Regions from separate parts of the Homo sapiens genome. Here region 1 is linked to region 2. The links come from fine-mapping of genetic effects on gene expression. Tissue or cell type: whole blood. Region 2 holds a variant in brackets; the other region holds the start of a gene. All regions are shown on one strand. Distances are from middle to middle. Region 1 holds the start of CDC23 (cell division cycle 23). Region 2 overlaps NME5 (NME/NM23 family member 5).

Region 1 (5,376 bases), 92 kb after region 2:
TCAATGGTGCACTAAAGAAAATGTGGTACATATACACCATGGAATACGACACAGCCATAAAAAAGAACAAAATCATGTCCTTTGCAGTAACATGGATGCAGCTAGAGGCCATTATCCAAAGTGAATTAACACAGAAATAGAAACCCAAATACAGCATGTTCTCACTTACAAGTGGAAGCTGATCACTGGGTACACACGGACTTAAAGATGGGAACAACAGACACCAGGGACTCCAAGAGTGGGGAAGGAGGAAAGCAAAGGGTGAAAACTATCTGGCCAGGTCCCAGCACTTTGAGAGGCCAAGGTAGGTGGATCACCTGAAGTCAGGAGTTCCAGACCAGCCTGGTAAACAGGGTGAAACCCTGTCCCTACTAAAAATACAAAAAGTTACCCAGGCGTGGTGACGGGTGCCTGTAATCCGAGCTACTCGGGAGGTTGAGGCAGGAGAATTGCTTGAACCCGGGAGGCAGAGGTTGCAGTGAGCCATCATGCCATTGCACTCCAGCCTGGGCAACAAGAGCAAGACTCCGTCTCAAAAAAAAAAAAAAGTAAAATAAAATAAAACTGTCTATCAGGTATTATGTTCACTATTTGGATGATGGGTTCAACTGAAGCCCAACCTCAGAATCACACAATATATCCATGTAGCAAATCTGCACAAGTAACCCCTGAATCTAAAATTTAAACAACAAAAACAATTATTTATCCTATTCAGGACCAACGATGGGCCTAGGCATTATGAAAGTGGGCACAAGAGTAAAAGCTAATGAGACAAATATAAACTGCATTGACTCAAAAAATTTACCTAAGAGTATACCGTATGCTTTACCCTTATTGCTTTATTTAATCTTCTTGAAAATGCAGCAATTATTAACATTATCTATAGATGAGAAGGCTGTCACTTAGAAATCATTTGCCCACATTGGTGCTGCTAATAAAGAACTTGACCGAAATATAGATGCAAGCACCAGGCACACTTCTAAGCGGTCTATATTATTATCTCATTGACTTCTCTCAATATCCCCATTGAGTAGATACTATTACTATCGTCACTGCACAGATGAGGAAACTGGCTCAGAAGGTTAAGTTGCCAAAGGTCATTTGAACCCAGAGTCGTCTCAATCCAGCACCCAAACTTAACCATTATTTGCTATGCTGATCAGACAACAGTGTAGGTATTGTAAAAACTTTATTTATTTATTATTTATTTTGAGACAGTGTCCCGCTCTGCCCTCGGGCTGGAGTGCAATGGCGCGATCTCAGCTCACTGCAACCTTCGCCTCCCGGGTTTAAGCGATTCTCCTGTCTCAGCCTCCCGAGTAACTGGGATTACAGGCGCGCGCCACCATGTCCGGCTAATTTTGTATTTTTACTAGAGACGGGGTTTCACCGTGTTGGCCAAGCTGGTCTCGAACTCCTAACCTCGTGATCCGCCCACCTCGGCCTCCTAAAGTGTTGGGATTACAGGCGTGAGCCACCGCGCCAGACCAAAACTTTTGATTCTTCTCATCCTTTTGGGTATTTATTATGAGATATCCTTATAATAATTCCTTATAATAATATTTACTATTATGAGGCACTCTTATGTCTAGGTTTGGCTATAAGCCCTAAAAGGCTGAAATCATAAGCAGTAATTGTTTACTAATTCTCCCCAGCTTTAAATAAGAGCACCACCAAGTCTTTCAAAGCTCAAGAAAACTAAATGGATAAAATCATTTAAAACACTCAGCTCTTTGAATGCCTGAATTCCCTCTACAAACATTTCTGCTAAGCAGTTTGCTCTCCTCCAGTGACAGGGCACTCAGTGGCTCTTGAGGCACACCCCTGGGTTGATGGGGAGCGCTCACTGTAAACATGTCCTTACCTCTGTAATAGGCGGAGGCGGTTGCAGCTCGGCCAGAGGCAATGCAGGGAGAGAGAAAGCCAACTCCGCCGACCTGGAACACCCACACAAACTAGATCAGCTCGACAAGCCCCCCAAGGCCAAGGATCCAAGCCCCGTCCCTTCCCACTCCAACATCTCACCATTTGCTACTGTGTAGTAGGCCCCGCTCCCGGGTAAGGCCCGCAATAAGCAGCAGTTGCTTTTTAATTTCCCGCAAATCTGAGAAATCGCTGTTTATGGACAGGACAGGCGCCACTGCCGCCGTCACAGCCACCGGGACCATGGAGGTACTCGCAGCCATTTTCCCGACTCGGGCCACTCCAGCCAATCATCGGCGATAATACTGGCTGCCCATCTGCACCAAAAATATCTGCCTGTCATTGGCCGGCTCTTGCTCCGGAAAAACCAATCATAGGTCTTATTTCTGAAACGTCACGAAGAGGCGGGGGAAAAGAAACAACTACATCCCCAAATGGCCAAGAGCTACTGAGGCGGGAAAATTAGAAAATAGGCGGGGCGAGGGAGAAGCCACGACCTCTGGGCGGGGCGGGGAAGAGGGGAATGAGTGACTGGGAAAAGTAAACTGGGAAGCTAGGGGTGGGAGTAGGGGCAAGAAAGGGTGGAGAAGGGAGAGTGCCTTTCACGGGTGATGTGATTGGATGAAAAATAGAAAGGGTGTAGTTTCAGGGCCGACTCTGTACCAGATAATGACAAAGTGATGTATATGCTAGGAAAGATGCATGGTAGCCTCTGGATTCTTCCTTAAAATAGGAGGATGTATCGCCCCATGTGGAGGATTTTTCCTCTTTGTCTACCCTTTCTTACCCCGGGTAGCCCGGGGAGGTGGGGGTGAGAGCATTGTTCTGTAACATTTATTTAACAATAATTGTTAACATTTCACATTTATTGAGGGTTTATCCTACAACAGGTTCTGCTCTTTTACAACTATAATCTGGTTTAATCCTAAAAACAGCACTATGATATTCGTATCATCCCAATTTTATAGAAAGAAAAACGGAAGCTCGGCCAGGCGCGGTGGCTCAAGCCTGTAATCCAACACTGTGGGAGGCCGAGGCGGGCGGATCACGAGGTCAGGAGATCGAGACCATCCTGGCCAACACGGTGAAACCCCGTCTCTACTAAAAATACATAAAAATTAGCCGGGCGTGGTGGCACGTGTCTGTAGTCCCAGCTACTCGGCAGGCTGAGGCAGGAGAATCGCTTGAACCTGGGAGGCGGAGGTTGCAATGAGCCGAGATCGTGCCATTGCACTCCAGCCTGGGCGACAGAGCGAGACTCCGTCAAAAAAAAAAAAAAAAAAAAACAAAACCAGAAAAGAAAAAAAAGAAAAAACGGAAGCTCAGAGAAGTTCTATCACTCTTCCAAGGAGAGAGTCTAGACTATAAACCAGATTTTACTCCAAAGCCCAATGTTCTTAAACATTACATGAACATTTTCGGCGTTTTTTGGTTTTTATCCTTTCATAGTAGTATACTATCTTACCAACCCCTCGGGAATTTTTTTTGAAACCATTTTGTCATTCACTGGGTGTTATATAGAAGTTATCTATTTTTAAATTGTTATTTTATTATTTTATTTATTTTAAGAAAGGGTCTCGGCCGGGCGCGGTGGCTCACGCCGGTAATCCCAGCACTTTGCGAGGCGAAGGCGGGCGGATCACGAGGTCAGGAGATCAAGACCATCTTGGCTAACACGGTGAAACCCCTGTCTCTACTAAAAATACAAAAAAAAAAAAAATTAGCCGGGCGTGGTGGCAGGCACCTGTAGTCCCAGCTACTCTGGAAGCTGAGACAGAATGGCGTGAACCTGGGAGGCGGAGCTTGCAGTGAGCAGAGATCGCGCCACTGCACTCCAGCCTGGGCGACAGAACGAGACTCTGTCTCAAAAAAAAAAAAAAGAAAGAAGGTCTCGTTCTGTCATCCAGGCTGGAGTGGCCGCGGCCCGATCAAGGCTCACTGCATCCTCAAACTCCTGGGCTCCAGTGATCCTGCCGCCTCAGCCTCCCAAGTAGCTGGGACCACAGGTGTGTGTCACGACACCCAGCTAATTTTTTTTTTTTTTGTAATTTTCGTAGGGACAGAATCTCCCTATGTTGCCCAGGCTGGTCTCAAACTCCTGGGCTTAAATGATCCTCTCGCCTTGCCCTCCCAAAGTTCTGGGATTACAAGCATAAGCCACCATGCCCAGCCCATTTTACCCTTTAAAAAAATCAATTTGCGGGCCTATATTCCCAGTGCTTTGGGAGGCTGAGGCGGGAAGATCATTTGAGCCCAGCTGTTGAAGACCAGCCTGGGCAACATACCAAGACCTCCCTATCACTACTACTATAAAAATTAAAAATTAAAAAAATATATATCCAGGCATGGTGGTGCATGCCTGTCATCCCAGCTACTCGGGAGGCTGAGGTGGGAGGATCACTTGAGTCCAGGAGTTTGAGGTTGCAGTGAGCTATGATTGCACCACTGCACTCTCCAGCCTGGATGCAGAGACCCTATCTCAAAAAAAAAAAAAGAAGTAATGTCAATGGCAAAAACTTGAAGAATACATTAACTATAAAGAAAAATATGGGAGGTGGGCGTGGTGGCTCACGCGTGTAATCCCAGCACTTTGGGAGGCAGAGGCGGGTGGATCACGAGGTCAGGAGATCGAGACCATCCTGGCTGACACAGTGAAACCCCGTCTGTACTAAAAATACAAAAAAGCCAGGCTTAGTGGCGGGTGCCGTAGTCCCAGCTACCCGGGAGGCTGAGGCAGGAGAACATGTGAAGCCGGGAGGCGGAGCTTGCAGTGAGCCAAGATCACGCCACTGCACTCCAGCCTGGGCAACAGAGCGAGACTCGGTCTCAAAAAAAAAAAAAGAAAAGAAAAATATGGGCCAAGCGCAGTGGCTCACGCCTGTAATACCAACAAGGCCTAGATGGATGGATCACCTGAGGTCAGGAGATGGAGACCAGCCTGACAAACGTGGTGAAACCCCATCTCTACTAAAACTACAAAAATTAGCTGGGTGTGGTATTATGCACCTGTAGTCCCAGCTACTCCGAAGGCTGAGGCAGGAGAATCGCTTGAACCCAGGAGGTAGAGGTTGCAGTAAGCCAAGATCGTGCCACTGTACTCTAGCCTGGACAAGAGTGAGACTCTGTCTCAAACATAATTAATTAATTAATTAATTTTTTTAAGAAAGAAAAATATGTAGAACACTAACTCCCACCCAAAGGAAATCACTGGTTTCTGTGTTTCTCCATCCATCTGTGTACATAGCTTCATACTGCAGTGCTGCCCACATTTGTCATTTGATAATTCACTCTAAGTATTTTCCCAAGTTAATATTCTTCTAAATCGTGATACTTAATAACTGCATGATAATCCATTATATGAATGTACCATAAATTGGCCGGGCACAGTGGCTAATGCCTGTAATCCCAGCACTTTGGGAGCCTGAGGCAGGCAGATCACCTGAGGTCAGGAGT
Region 2 (5,382 bases):
ATGGAGTCTTACTCTGTTGCCTGGGCTGGAGTGCAATGATGCAATCTCAGATCACTGCAACCTCCTCCTGGGTTCATGTGATTCTCCCACCTCAGCCTTCCGAGTAGCTGGGACTACAGGTCCGCATCACCACACCCTGCTAATTTTTGTATTTTTATTTATTTTTATTTTTTGAGACAGAGTCTCGCTTTGTTGCCCAGGCTGGAATGCAGTGGCACAATCTCAGCTCACTGCAACCTCCAACTCCTGAGTTCAAGTGATTCTCCTGCCTCAGCCTCCTAAGTAGACAGGAGTGTGCCACCATGCCTGGCTAATTTTTGTACGTTGAGTAGAGGCAGGGTTTCACCATGTCGGCCAGGCTGGTCTCAAACTCCTGATCTAAGGTAATCCTCCTGTCTCGGCCTCCCAAAGTGCTAGGATTGCGGGCATGAGCCACCATGCTCGGCCCTAATTTCTGTATTTTTAGTAGAGATGGGGTTTCACCATGTTGGCCAGGCTGGTCTTGAACTCCTAACGTCAAATAATCTGCCTGCCTCAGCCTGCCAAAGTGCTGAGATTACAGGCATGAGCCACTGCAACCAGCCTGTTTTCTTTTTCTTTTCTTTTCTTTATTTTTTTTTTTTTGAGACAGAGTTTCACTCTTGTCACCCAGGCTGGAGTGCAGCAGCACAATCTCAGTTCACTGCAACCCCGTCTCCCAGGTTGAAGCAATTCTCCTGCCTCAGCCTCCTGAGTAGAACCAGCCTCAGTTTTCAGTTGGGATGTTTCTCTTATTATTTAGACATAGGAGTTCTTTATATATTCTAGTTACAAGTTCTTTATATTATTTGGTGATATTTTTTCCCAGTCTGTTGCCTACCTATCTTTTCATATTTTTAAAAATTTAACTTCTATTTTTTTTTTTGACACAGGGTCTTGCTCCGTTGCCCAGTCTGGAGTGTGGTGGTGTGAGCACAGCTCACTGCAGCCTCGAACTCCTGGGCTGAAGCATCCTCTGGCTTCAGCCTTCCAAGTAGCTGGGCCTGCAAGTGTGTGCCACCACACCCAGCTTTTTTTTTCTTTAAGTGTTTAGAGACAGGGTGTCACTCACGCTGGTCTCAAACTCCTGGCCTCAAGCAATCCTCCCACCTCAGCCTCCTGAATAGCTGGATTTACAGGTGCAAACCACTGCTCCCAGCTCTTTTTTTTTTTTTTTTTTTTTTGAGACAGAGTCTTTCTCTGTCGCCAGGCTGGAGTGCAGTGCCGCGATCTTGGCTCACTGCAAGCTCCGCCTCCTGGGTTCACGCCATTCTCCTGCCTCAGCCTTCTGAGTAGCTGGGACTACAGGTGCCCGCCACTAATTAGTCCGGCTAATTTTTTTGTATTTTTTAGTAGAGACGGGGTTTCACCATGTTAGCCAGGATGGTCTTGATATCCTGACCTTGTGAGCCGCCTGCCTCGGCCTCCCAAAGTGCTGGGATTACAGGCATGAGCCACCGCGCCCAGCCTCTTTTCACATTCTTAATGATGTCCTTTGAAGCACAAAAGCTTTTAATTTGATTTAGTCCAATTTATCAATATTTTCTTTTATGGATCTTGCTTTTGATGTCATTTTAAGAAGTCTTTGTCCAACTCCAGTTACAAAGATTTTCTTGTTTTCTTTTAGATGTTTTTACATTGAAGTCTGTGATCCATTTTGAGTTAATTTTTGTGTATGCTATGAAACAAGGGTCTAAGTTCTTTTTGTTTTTATGTGACTATCATGCTGTCCTAGCACCATATACAGACTTTCCTCAATTTACATGGGTTACATCCCAATAAACCCATCATAAGTTGAAAGTATCAGTAAGTCAAAAACACATTTAATACACCTAGCCTATTGAACATCATAGCATAGCATAGCCTACTTTAAATGTGCTCAGAACACTTACATTAGCCTACAGTTGGGCAAAATCATCTAACACAAAGCAAATTTTATATAAATAACATTTTCTATATAATATACATATATTATGAGCTGGGCACAGTGGTTCACACTTGTAGTCCTAGCTCCTTGAGAGGCTGAGGCAGTAGGATTACCTGAAGCCATGAGTTTGAGACCATCTGGGCAACAAAGCAAGACTCTGTCTCTTAAAAAAAAAAGATATATATATATATCATTTTTGGGGGAGGATCTCTTGAGGCCAGGAGTTCAATACCAGCCTGGGCAATATG[G/A]CGAGACTGCCTTTCTACAACAAAAAAATTCAAAAAGTAGCCAGGCATGGTGGTCTATGCCTCTAGTCTCAGCTACTCAGGAGGCTAAGGTGGGAGAATGCTTGAGCCCAGGAGGTCAGGCTGTAGTGGGCACCACTGCACTTCAGCCTGGGTGACAGAGAGACACCCTGTCTCAAAAAAAAAGGAAACCAAAATAGAATGGTTGTATGGATACTCGCCATTAATGTACACAGCTGAAAGCACCATAGTAAAGTCAAAAAACTGTAACTTGAACCATGGTAAGTTGGGGACTGTATTGGCAAGACCATCCTTTTCTCACTGAATTGTCTAGGCACCTTTGTTGAAAGTGAATTGACCATAAGTGTAAAAGTTTACTTCTAGATCCTCAATTCTGTTCCAATAATCTATATGTGTATCTTTATATCACTGTCATACCGTCTTATAATTGTGGCTTTGCAGTAAGTTTCAAAATCAGATAGTGGAAGTCTTCCAACTTTGTTCTTCTTTTCTAAAATTGAATTATTTGCAATTTTGCTAAATTTTAAACTCAGCTTGTCAATGTCTACGTAAAAGTATGCATGGACTTTTAAAAGGATTACATTAAAATTTTCTTTAAATTTTTTTTTTCTTGTAGAGATGAGGTCTCACTTTGTTGCCCAGGCTGGTCTCCTACTCCTAGACTGAAGCAATCCTTCTGCCTCAGCCTCCCAAAGTGTTGAGATTACAGGAATGAGCCACTGCACCCAACCCAAAACTGTTAATTAATTTAGAAAGAATTGCCATCTTAACAATATTGAGTCTTCCAATCCATTAATATGGAATATCTATTATTTATTTTAAAATTTATCTCAGCAATGTTCTTTGTTTTTCAGTGTACAAGAATTGCACTTTCATTAAATTTATGCTTAAATATGGCCGGGCGTGGTGGCTCACACCTGTAATCCCAGCACTTTGGGAGGCCAAGGCGGGTGGATCACCTGAAGTCAGGAGTTTGAGACCAGCCTGCCCAACGTGGCGAAACCCTGTCTCTACTAAAAATACAAAAAATTAGCTGGGCGTGGTGGTGGGCGCCTGTAATCCCAGCTACTCGGGAGGCTGAAGCAGGAGAATCGCTTGAACCCAGGAGGCAGAGGTTGCAGTGAGTTGAGATCGGGCCACTGCACTCCAGCCTGGGTGACAAGAGCGAAACTCTGTCTCTAAAAAAAAAAAAAAAAAAAAAAAAAAAATTGTGCCTAAATATTATATTATTTTTAATGTCATTGTGAATGGAATTTTCCTTTTTACAGCTTTATTGAAGTATTACTCATGTACACAAAATTGCACACAATTAATGTATACAATTTTTTCTCAATATGGGCAAATGTTTTATTCATATATTATATAAAGTTCATTATGCCAATTTATCAGGTACTAATCATTAAACAAAAATTTTTTTAATTTTTTTTTTTTTTTGAGACATGGTCTTGCTCTGTTGCCCAGGCTGGAGTGCAGTGGTGCGATCTCGGTTCACTGCAACCTCTGCCTCCTGGGTTCAAGCAATTCTCCTGCCTCAGCCTCCTGAGTAGCTGGGATTACAGATGCATGCCACTATGCCAGGCTAATTTTTTTTTATTTTTAGCAGAGATGGGGTTTCACTATGTTGGCTAGTCTGGTCTCGAACTCCTGACCTCAAGTGATCTGCCCATGTCAGGCTCCCAAAGTGCTGGGATTACAGGCATGAGCCACCACCCCTGGTCCCCCAAATTTTTTTTAACTTATAAGTGTACTTAAAATTTCTTTTTATTTTAAAAGCATGTCATCCTTGCATAGGGGCCAAGCTAATCTTCTCTGTATCGTTCCAATTTTAGCATATGTGCTGAAGTGAGCACAACAAATTTTTTAATAGATAAGAAATATTGTATACATTTATTGTGTACATGTTGTTTTGAAATATGTAAACACTATGGAAAGACAAATCAAGCTAATTAATATATGCATTACCTCAAATACTTATCTTTTTTTGTGGTGAGAACACTTAAAATCTACTGTCTTAGCAATTTTCAACAACACATTATTATTAACTATAGTCACCATGTTGAACTTATTCCTACTATCACAGGAATAAGTATCCTTTGATCAACATTTCCATCCCCTACTCTCTCTTGCAAGCTCCTGGTGGCCACCATTCTACTCTCCGAGTTCAAGTTTTTTTAGATTCCACATATAAGTGAGATCATGTGATATCTGTCTTTCTGTGCCTGGCTTATTTCACTTAATATAATGTCCTCCAGGTTCATCCATGTTGTCAAAAATGACAGAATCTCTTCCTTTTTAAGGCTGAATAGTATTACATTGTGTATATACACCACATTTTCTTTATCCATTAACCCACTGATGGACACTTAGGTTGATTCCATATCTTGGTTATTGTGAATAATGCCACAATGAACATTATTGTGGTTCATTGGTGCAGGTATCTCTTCAAGATCCTGATTCAATTCTTTCAGATATATATATCCAGCAGTGGGATTGTTAGATCATGTAACAGTTTTATTTTTAGTTTCTTGAGGAACTTCCATACTGTCTTCCATAGTGGCAGCACCATTTTTAATCTCCACCAAATGTGTACAAGCATTCCAATTTCCCTATATGCTTGCCAATATTTACCTTTTTTTCTTTTGATAATAGCCATCCTAACGTGTGAGGTGATATCTCACCGTGGTTTTGATCTGTATTTCCCTGATGATTAGTGATTTTGAGCACTTTTTTTTTTTTTTTTTTTTTTTTTTTTGAGATGGAGTCTTGTTCTTGTTGCCCAGGCTGGGGTGCAATGGCGCGATCTTGGCTCACTGCAACCTCCACCTCCTGGGTTCAAGTGGTTATCCTGCCTCAGCCTCCCGAGTAGCTGGGATTATAGGCACGTGCCACCACACCTGGCTAATTTTTTGTATTTTTTTTTTAGTAGAGACAGGGCTTCACTTTGTTGACCAGGTTGGTCTTGAATTCCTGACCTCAGGTGATCTGCCAGCCTCGGCCTCCCAAAGAGCTGGGATTACAGGCGTGAGCCACCACACCCGGCCTTAAGCACCTTTTCATATACTTGTTGGTTATTTGTATGTCTTCTTTAGAAAAATATCTATTCAAGTCCTTTGCCCATTTTTTAATTGGGTTATTTAGGGGTTTTTTGGATATTGATTTGTAAGAGTTCCT

What was found. PIP is the estimated chance that this variant, and not a neighbour inherited with it, causes the effect. A credible set is the group of variants that fine-mapping cannot tell apart.
Region 1: it holds the start of CDC23, and the variant in region 2 is the best candidate, but not a certain one, in a credible set for the expression of CDC23 in whole blood (INTERVAL, PIP 0.54).

The regions. Positions count from the first base shown.
Region 1 is chr5:138,211,127-138,216,502 of GRCh38, forward strand. It overlaps CDC23 (cell division cycle 23), which reads right to left and starts at 2,197. Exons shown (of 16, transcript NM_004661.4): 1 at 2,026-2,197; 2 at 1,865-1,937. The coding sequence starts at 2,186. RefSeq lists an enhancer at 2,214-2,508.
Region 2 is chr5:138,119,051-138,124,432 of GRCh38, forward strand. The region is part of intron 4 of NME5 (NME/NM23 family member 5); the gene reads right to left. It also overlaps the pseudogene RNU6-888P. Among named protein-coding and RNA genes, the nearest start is that of NME5, 18 kb to the right of the region's middle. The variant G/A (reference allele first, on the strand shown) is at 2,194.